2 separate regions of the Homo sapiens genome follow, and region 2 is linked to region 1. The links come from fine-mapping of genetic effects on gene expression. A gene starts in region 1. The other region holds a variant in brackets. All regions are shown on one strand. Distances are from middle to middle. Region 1 holds the start of LINC00539 (long intergenic non-protein coding RNA 539). Region 2 overlaps LINC00539 (long intergenic non-protein coding RNA 539).

Region 1 (4,391 bases):
AGGGGTCAGAGCCTGGCACACATGTCACTGTTGACTTGAAAAAGTTGATTGAGCAAGAGAAGGGGTCTCAGTCCTCCCCTAGGCTCCCCTGTGTCTCCGTGGGGTGCCCAGGCCCTGACCACCCCCAACCGAGGCAGGCTCTTCTCTTGCACTCTGTTACCTTGACAAGCTGTCATCTGACCTCCCTCCAAAAAAAATTCATGATAACCTTCTCCCAGGGCTAATAATAATTATTATTCTATTTTTAATAATTAATATGATAATGTAATTAATATATAATTATTACATATAATAATATAAGTAAATATTAATAACTATAATATAATTAATAATTATTATTATTAAAAACAGCTGTTTGAAAGCCTTTTGATGTGAGACAGACATCCCTAGCTGTGTTTCAGCAGTACTTGTCAATCTCTGTATGCGTAGGTACCATTATCACCACCACAGTCCCCAGTTCACAGAGGAGGAGCTGAGGCCCTCAGAGGCTCCATAATGTCCCCTAAAGCCACACAATCTTGGCCCAAGATTTGCTTGGCCCAGGGGCCTGGACGCTTGATCTCATAGATGGTCTGTCCATGTAGCTTGCAACACTCAAGAAGTCCCTCTCCAGTGAGGGAGCTCTGAACCCTGGCAGTGAGGCCTCTCAGTGAGGGGGCTTCTGAGCCCTGGCAGTGAGAAGCTCTCTGTGACCAGGGGACCCACCCTGCAACCTCCCCACCATTCCATAGCTGCCAGCACCTGTGCCCACTTCGAAGCTTAACCCTGAATGATAAGAGAGACCAGGAGCCAACAGCTTTACGTACGTTACTAATGAGCCTCAGAACAAACTCACAAAAAAATCTTATTCCTACTTCACAAACAAGAAGTTGAGGATCAGAGAGGTTAACTCAAATGACAAAGTCACACAGCTTTTAAGTCCCCTGCTCTTGGCACCAGACTCAGCAGCTTTGATGTGTTTGTTCTCTTCCTCCCTGTTTTTATTGAGGGCTTCTGAGGTGCCCTCCTTCTCCATCTCCTCCCTTCTCCTTCTTCTCCTCCTCCCCCTCCCCCCCGCCTCCTCCTCCTCTTCCTTCTTCTTCTCCTCTCCCTCTCCTCCTCCTTCTCCTTCTCCTCCTTCTCCTTCTCCTTTCTCTTTTTTAAATTTAAGAGATGGGGTCCCACTCTGTCACCCAAGCTGGAGTGCAATGGAATGATCACAGCTCACTGCAGCCTCAACCTCCCAGGCTCAAGCAGTCCTCCCACCTCAGCCTCCAGAGTAGCTGGGAATATAGGCACACCTCACTACACCTAGCTAATTTTTAAATTTTTTTGTAGAGACAGGGTCTTTCTGTGTTGCCCAAGCTGGTCTTGAACTCCTGGGTTCAAGTGATCTGCTCCCCCTCAGCCTCCCAAAGTGCTAGGATTACAGGACTGAGCCACCATGCCCGGCCAAGTCACCCTTCTTGAACTTTGATTCACCAAGCTCTTCAGTCCAATTTTACACAAGTGTGAACTCAGGTGTGTGCTTGTGATTCTTTGTTCACACACAGCCAAGTTGGCACAAGAAGGTGAAACAGAGAAAGGCCTCAGTGTTTTTGGCCAAGCCCACAGAAGGCCACCTAAGCAGGCTGGATGCTGCCCAGGGCTGGGCCACAGCGTGTCCTTTGTAAGTCAGCCATCCCAGCCCCCGAACCCCACACACACACAAAGACACACACTTACCCCAGGAGCAGCCCCACAGTGCAAAGGAGCCCACACAGCGGCTAATGGCTGCTCAGGTTTGTGTGATCTGTCTGGGTTCAGGCACAACCTCCAGGGGCCTCTGGCCCAGGTTGCATCTTTCCTGCAGAGCAGAAAAAGCACAGTTAAGAAAACCCCAAGAAGGCAGTCAGTTTCCTCCCTTGAGTTTCTGGGGTGGACTTCCGGCAGAGTTTTTGGAGGACTGACTGTTGCAGTTAAACAATGTGTCTGGCAAGAAGCGAGACTTCCTCCCTTCCTGCTGCCTGGCTCATGGGGCTGCAGCCTCCTTCTGGAGGTGGCAAGAAAGAACTGTGGAGTCCGCGATCTAAGGGATCCCTGGCAGCCCACGGCAGCCAGAGAACCACATCCGCTGGAGAACTCTAGGTTCTCTACGGCCTCTTGTTACTGCCAGTGCTTGTGTGGCTTGAGGTGGGTAATGCGGCAGCCTCCTGCAGCTAGCCCAGGACTGGGCAGCATGGGGCCAGGTAGTTAGTGTAGGAGAGTGAGCCCAAGCTTGGAAAGCAAGACTTGGCTCTGTCACTGGGCAACCGGGCAACCTTTTTTTGGTTTGGTTTTGTTTTGTTGTTTTTGAGACAGAGTCTTGCTCTATTGCCCAGGCTGGAGTGCAGTGGCATGCTCAAGTCCTGCCTCCCTGGTTCAAGCGATTCTCCTGCCTCAGCCTCCTGAGTAGCTGGGACTACGGGCATGTGCCACCACGCCTGGCTGATTTTTATATTTTTTATTGACGGGGTTTTGTCATGTTGGCCAGGCTGTCCTCAAACTCCTCCCCTCAAGTAATCTGCCCTCCTCGGCCTCCCAAGTGCTGGGATTACAGGCATGAGCCACTGCGCCCAGCCTGGGCAACCTTGAAGAAGTTACTTAGCTTCTCTGAGCCTCAGTTTCCTCATCTGTATAATGGAAGCAATAGTGTCCGTTTTGCAGGGCTAGTATGCCTGGTAAATGAGAATCCTCATAAGAGCCTAGAAATAATAGTGTCATAATGCAGGTGGTTCTACTATTACCAGTGACTAGTATTTGTTGAACACTGACCATAGACTAAGTTTTGTACTGAGCGTTTTATATTTATTGTCCCATTTAGTCCTCCAAAAAATCTAATGAGATATGACCATCCCCAGCTTACAAATAAGAAAACTGAAACTCAAAAAGACCAGCAAGTGACCCCAGAGAACTGCACAAGGATCTGCAGAGAGTGAGCAACAGGAGCCGAAGCCGTGGGCTCATACCAGGCTCTCTTCCTGCCTCTTAAGCCCATGGCACATTTGGAGGGTGCTACCTGAATTGAATGGGTGTGCCTGTTGTTTTGAAGTTGGGGTCTACGGCCATACCACCCTGAACGTGCCGGATCTCGTCTGAAGTTGAGGATAGGCATCATCTTTCACTTCAAAATGAAGAAACGGAGGCATTGGGAGGTTAAGTCACACATAGCCAGCAAGTGGCAGAGAGTGAAAGGAACCAGCATTGATGAGCGCCTACTGTATGCCAAACACTGTGCTTACTTCAAGATCCTGTGATCTGCTGGGTGGTTTTGGAGATGTTGGAGTTTCATTGACTTCCTACACTGCCCTGAAGAGGTCTTATTAGTATTAGCCCCATTTTACAGAGAAGGGAACTGAAGCTCCGTGCATGTAATTAGACTCCGAAGGCTGTTGATGGATGGGGAAGGAGAGGGTCCCTCTCTGCTTTTAAGGAATGCATGGACAGTTATGATTCTGGCCTGAGAAGGAAATGGAAGGGGCTCTGTGCCCGTCCCACATATCCTGCCCCACACCCAGGGCCTCATGGATCCCACCAGGGGAGGCTCCTGGCTTCCCAACAGAGGAAGGCATCACTTCAGAAAGGGCTGTCCCCTCAGGCCTTCTGTAGGTGGCCGGTGGGGTCTAAGTGTGTGTGCCCTTCACTCCCCGCTTCATTCCCCTCATCCTCCCTGTGCTCCTGTAATGCCCACTGGACCACTGGAGAGCCCCCGCAGACGGCAAACAGCAGCAGAGCACACAACCAGCCCTCTCAGGTCTAGTAAAAGTGAGCTTCCTACAGAAATGCACAGGGGACTGAGATGAGAGTCGAGCAGGCCTGGAAGGATCCCGGGGAACAAACAATGCTGCAGGGAAGATGGAGGCCCCCTCGGCAAGCCGTCCTTTCTGGCCCCCGAGGAGCCCTGGGGTGGACCCTGGTCACTGTCTTGAACATGTGACTCTAGTCTTTTTCCTCATTTTCAATATCAGTAAAATGAACTTAAGCATGTGTTCCACAATGCGAAGGTTTATTGATTTATAAATTCTATAAATGTGCTACTGAGCTAATAAATGCATCACAAATGACATAAAAGTTGATATTTTACTAGGATAATAGGAAATCACAACTAGAATTTCTGATATCTTCTTCCTACGCCCCCAGCATTTTGTGGTGTGCCCCCTCTGGGCCTTGGGAAAGTGATACAGAGCCTGCAGAGCCTGGTACTATGCTAGGGTCTGGCTGTAATGGGACACTGCCCTTTCCTGCAAGAGGCCATTGAGCAAGGCATTTGGCACAGGCTTTGGGGTCAGACAGAAGTGGGTTCTGATCTCATCTCTGCCTCTGAGGAGCAGTGTGGCCTGGGCAATGACTTACCACCTGGAGCCTCCATTTCCTCATCACAAAATGGGGGAGAT
Region 2 (4,391 bases), 21 kb before region 1:
GTAATGTGACAAAACATAAAAAGGGATGGAGAAAGCGAGGGAGAGACGGGTGTGCCTCATGCATTCATGGATTTGTATTTATACTCCAATGATCTTGTTATTTTTAAAGTCTGCTAAAGCTGGTTCCACCTGCAGGTTTCTTTTGGTGTCCTAAATCTGTGTGTGCATTCTCCACATGCTTGGAGTCAGCGTACATGAGCTGTTTGTCCCCCAGCTGGCTTTTTGCAGTGGAAGAGGCGCAAACAGAATCCGCAGCACGTAGGACAGGGAGCCTGAAATCCCACGCCGCACAGCACTCAGTGTGTGCAGGAGCTGAGGGAAGCAATAAGACCTAATAACCTCATCCATTCTCCTAATTGCTTTCTTCTCCTCACAGAGGAGCCACATCAGCAGCTCTGGTGACCCTCAGGGAAATCTCTGCTTGTTATGAGGTTGGTGGGCCATCCTTTCATCACTGTGAAATGCTGGCAGTTTGTGTCAACAAATCGAATTTCAGTCAATCAATAGGCACCCCGCCTCTCAGCTTGGCAGAGCTGCACAGCTGGCCTTCCTTCCCTCCCATCTGCTGCCCATGCCCTGGAGCCCTGGCAGCAAGAACCACTGCTGCCCGTGGCGTGGGAGAATGCCCAGGCAGCCAGGTCAGACTGGATGTGGCAGACAGCAATTGACAAGGCTGGTTCCACCACCAGAGAGTCACAGCCCACTGGAAACACACCATGTTGTACAGGGTGGAAGCGCCAGCTTTGTGCAGATGGACTTGGGTACAGGTCTGATTCTGCCACTTTGGGCTGTATGGCCTTGAACTTCAAGGCAAGTTCTTCACCTCTTTGAACTCTACCTTCCTTAGTTATAAAGCGGGGATGCTACTGCTGCCTGCTGCAGGATTGTTAGGAAAAGTGTTATAATGCATGCAAAGTGCTTTGTCCAGTCCCTGGCACACAGTAGAGAGAGAGAGAGAGAGAGAGTGTGTGTGTGTGTATGTCACTGTGATCTGCCAAGTCTTACAAGCCAAATAGGGCAATAAATGGCAACTACTGCGGATTTTACAATCATCATTAGCATCATCATCATTATTATTGTCATGTTGAGTGTTGCACAGAAAACAGCCTAGAACCAGCCTACGTGGTTCTATCAATGCAGGATGAGAATATTCAGCCTCCAGTTCATGAAGGTTCACTAAGCAGAGATGTACACTGGATGATCACCAGCGTGTACAAAAAATAAATACTATAGTATCTTCATCAGAGGGCTGCCATTGGCCTCAGGAGGGCATTCCCAGGTAGAAGTGCCTCAGGAGGTTTGTTCTGTTGCCTGGCCCAACATCCTATAGGGAAGGAGCCCAATAGTGGCTCCTTGAAATTTCTGCATTCTCTGGAAGCCAGAAAAAGCAAAGACCTCCTGGCAATTGAGTTCTCTTGCTTGTAGGGGAGATCACAGCTTCGTAGATAGACGGCTGTTTCCCTTTGGGTGATAGAGGTCCCTGCTGGGCAACAAAGAATTAAACACAAATCTATTTCTTGCCAGTAGTTGTCACACCTAATAGATTGGGATGAGATACCACTGCATTAGTGTGTGAATTTCCCCAGATGAAGGCAGCAGCAAAGCCCTTTAGAACAAGCCACAGAAGGACAGAAACAAACTAATCAGGGAATGCACAGCTTCACACAAGATCCAGGGGCTTCTGACATGGGAGGAACACAAAAGTTTTAACTAACCAAGGATGCAAACATTCCCCCAGCAAGAAATGGTTAGAAGTATCTTGGAGTGCATTTTGTGGTCGCTGTTACTGCTGCTGCTGTTTTGTATAAT[A/T]GGGAAGGAAAAGAGAATAATTAGAGGTGAGATTTTCAGACACAGAATGCCCTAGTATTTATTGAGTTTCCACTCTGAGGCAGGCACTGTGAGAAGCCCTTCCACATTTATTATTTCATTGCATTTGTCATAATAACCCTGCATGGCAGGAATATTTACCCTTTTTGTCCAATGTGGATGCTGAGGCCCAGATAGAACCCAAAAAGCTCTGGGACCTGGCATAGACCAGGTGCTAGGTAACAAGAGATTGGCAGAGCCTTGCCCAGGGTCACAAATCAAGAGGAGAGATTCAAATGCAGATCCTAAAACTCCAGACCACCCCTCTTTTCTCTCTCCCTACCTGCTTGCTCAGTGCAGGAGACTGGGAGGGCCCTGAGCCAGGATGGGTTTAGACTCATGGAAGAAAATTCCATGGGGGAAAAATGTTTTTTCCATGAGAATCTGCTCTCATATAGCAGCCACACTTCTCCATACAGCCCAGAGACAGATCCTTCTAACATTCAAGCTAGTCTTAGGTCTTTGGGGGAGAGATTCAAAGATTCTGAATTAAAAAAAAAAATTAGACCCCCAGAACAGTAGAATACGATTCATGTCTGTTATGAATTACAGTTGGGTCTTTATCGTGCAGCAAGGGGTCCTCAATGGTGCCTACATCCTTTCTGAAATTGATCTTATTGGGATAACATGGCCAAAAAGGAAAACAAAAGCAAATAGTCATGCGTGTTTGGAAGATCTAGGACCGAGACATGCAAGTGTGATGGGAAGGTTCACTGCTCTTGGAAATTTAATTGCTGGATGGAAACAGACATAGAAATCTGGATTCCAACCAGACTTGAGCTCCATGCTAGCATATCAGACTGCCTGCTGGAATCCCTGTGTGGATGTCTCAAAGGCAGATAAAACTCAACATGCCTAAAAGCAAATGAATTGTTTCATGCTGCACCAGGCTCACCACCACAAAAGGGGAAATCAGCTGCATTCTCGACTTTAGTTGGTGACATCATCATCCCCCTAAGCCTCTCAAATGAGACACTTGGGATTTTCCCTCGGTTTTCCCTCTTCCTTATTCCTCCTGCCAATGTGCTGTTCAGTTCTCCTCTTCCCACCATCCACTGTCCCTTTGTATCTATCTTCTACCTATCTTTATACATCAACCCTTAACCGGACTCTCTGATTGCAATCTCACTCTCCTCTACCCATCACTGGTTTCAGAGAGATTTTTCTGAAATCCAAATTTGACCTTGGCACTCCTTGCTTACCACCTTCAATCACCCACCAGCATTGATGTGAAGGTTTTTTTTATGTGATTAACATTTAAATCAGTAAACTTTGAGTAAAGCAAATGACCCTTCATAATGTGGGTGGGCCTCATTCAATCAGTAAAAGGCTTTAAGAGAAAAGACTGAGGTCCCCTGAAGAAGTGGGAATTCTGCCTCCAAATTGCCTTCAGACTTGAGCTGCAACATCAGCTCTTCTGTGGGTCTGCAGATTTTGAACTTGCCAGCCCCACAATCACATGATCCACTTTCTTAACTCTCTCTCTCTCTGTGTATCTGTGTGTGTGTGTATGTGTATACATAGCATATACATAACATATACATACATAAACATATGTATTTCCTGTTGGTCCTGCTTCTTTGACTAGCCTTGACTAACAGAACCATCAGACCCAGGCTACTCCATCCTGTGGCTCCACAATCCATAATATGTTAACTCTGGGTCAGAGCTGGCTGCTTGGGCACCAGACATGGTAGCTCCATTCCAGACAGCTGGAGAGAGGAAGGGACCTAAAAAGACATATTCCCTTATTTTAGGGACACTTCCTGGAAGTAGAACATGACCATCCCATTGGCCAGAACTTAGTCACATCTAGTTGCAAGGGAATTGGGAACATAGTCATGATTCCAGAACCATGCGCCCAGCTAAAAATCAGGAGGTTTTATATCATGGTAGAAAGGGGGAACAGACATGGCGCTACAGCAGGAGACAGTATCTGCTACAAATACCAAACGAAGGGCGCTGGCAATGAGCATTTTAGAGGTTAAGGGGAGATTTAATGCGGGCAGGGTCCGGCAGAGAGGGGCTGCACAGTGCAAGGGGACCGGGGCTGACTTTGAAGGAAGGGCTACTCCGCCCAATTACGAGAACACGTGAGCACCCTTGCCCCAGAGTGAGCATCAACACCGTGATCACGGTTATCACGTGGGAGGTCTGCCCAGGATCCCGGCAGTGAGGCTGCCCTGGAGGCAGGCTTGCTCCGCCACAGGCGCGCAGGCAACAGCAGCGGAGCCGAGAATGGCGAGGCCAGCGGGCGACCAGGCCTCCGGCCAAGGGCACGCGACCCCCCGCGCTTCCCGAGTGCTCCCCTGAAGCCTGGTACGCGTGGGCACCGGCGCACGGCGGTGCCCCGGAAACGCAGCCATCGCCTCAGGGCAGCCACTCACCGATGCGGTAATGCCCCAACGGGGCGTTTCATTGGCCAGCTCTCTTTCAGGCTCCAACTATTTCTTAGATTTTTTTTAAGGAATTGCAAATAGGCCTAAACAAAATCCAGATGCGAGGGAAGGGATGCCTGAACACAG

Evidence for each region. PIP is the estimated chance that this variant, and not a neighbour inherited with it, causes the effect. A credible set is the group of variants that fine-mapping cannot tell apart.
Region 2: its variant is the best candidate, but not a certain one, in a credible set for the expression of LINC00539 in whole blood (TOPMed, PIP 0.59).

Annotation. Positions count from the first base shown.
Region 1 is chr13:21,342,962-21,347,352 of GRCh38, forward strand. It overlaps LINC00539 (long intergenic non-protein coding RNA 539), which reads right to left and starts at 1,898. Exons shown (of 3, transcript NR_103841.1): 1 at 1,705-1,898. It also overlaps the pseudogene MIPEPP3. RefSeq lists a silencer at 3,636-3,839.
Region 2 is chr13:21,322,220-21,326,610 of GRCh38, forward strand. The region is part of intron 2 of LINC00539 (long intergenic non-protein coding RNA 539); the gene reads right to left. It also overlaps the pseudogene MIPEPP3. Among named protein-coding and RNA genes, the nearest start is that of LINC00539, 20 kb to the right of the region's middle. The variant A/T (reference allele first, on the strand shown) is at 1,810.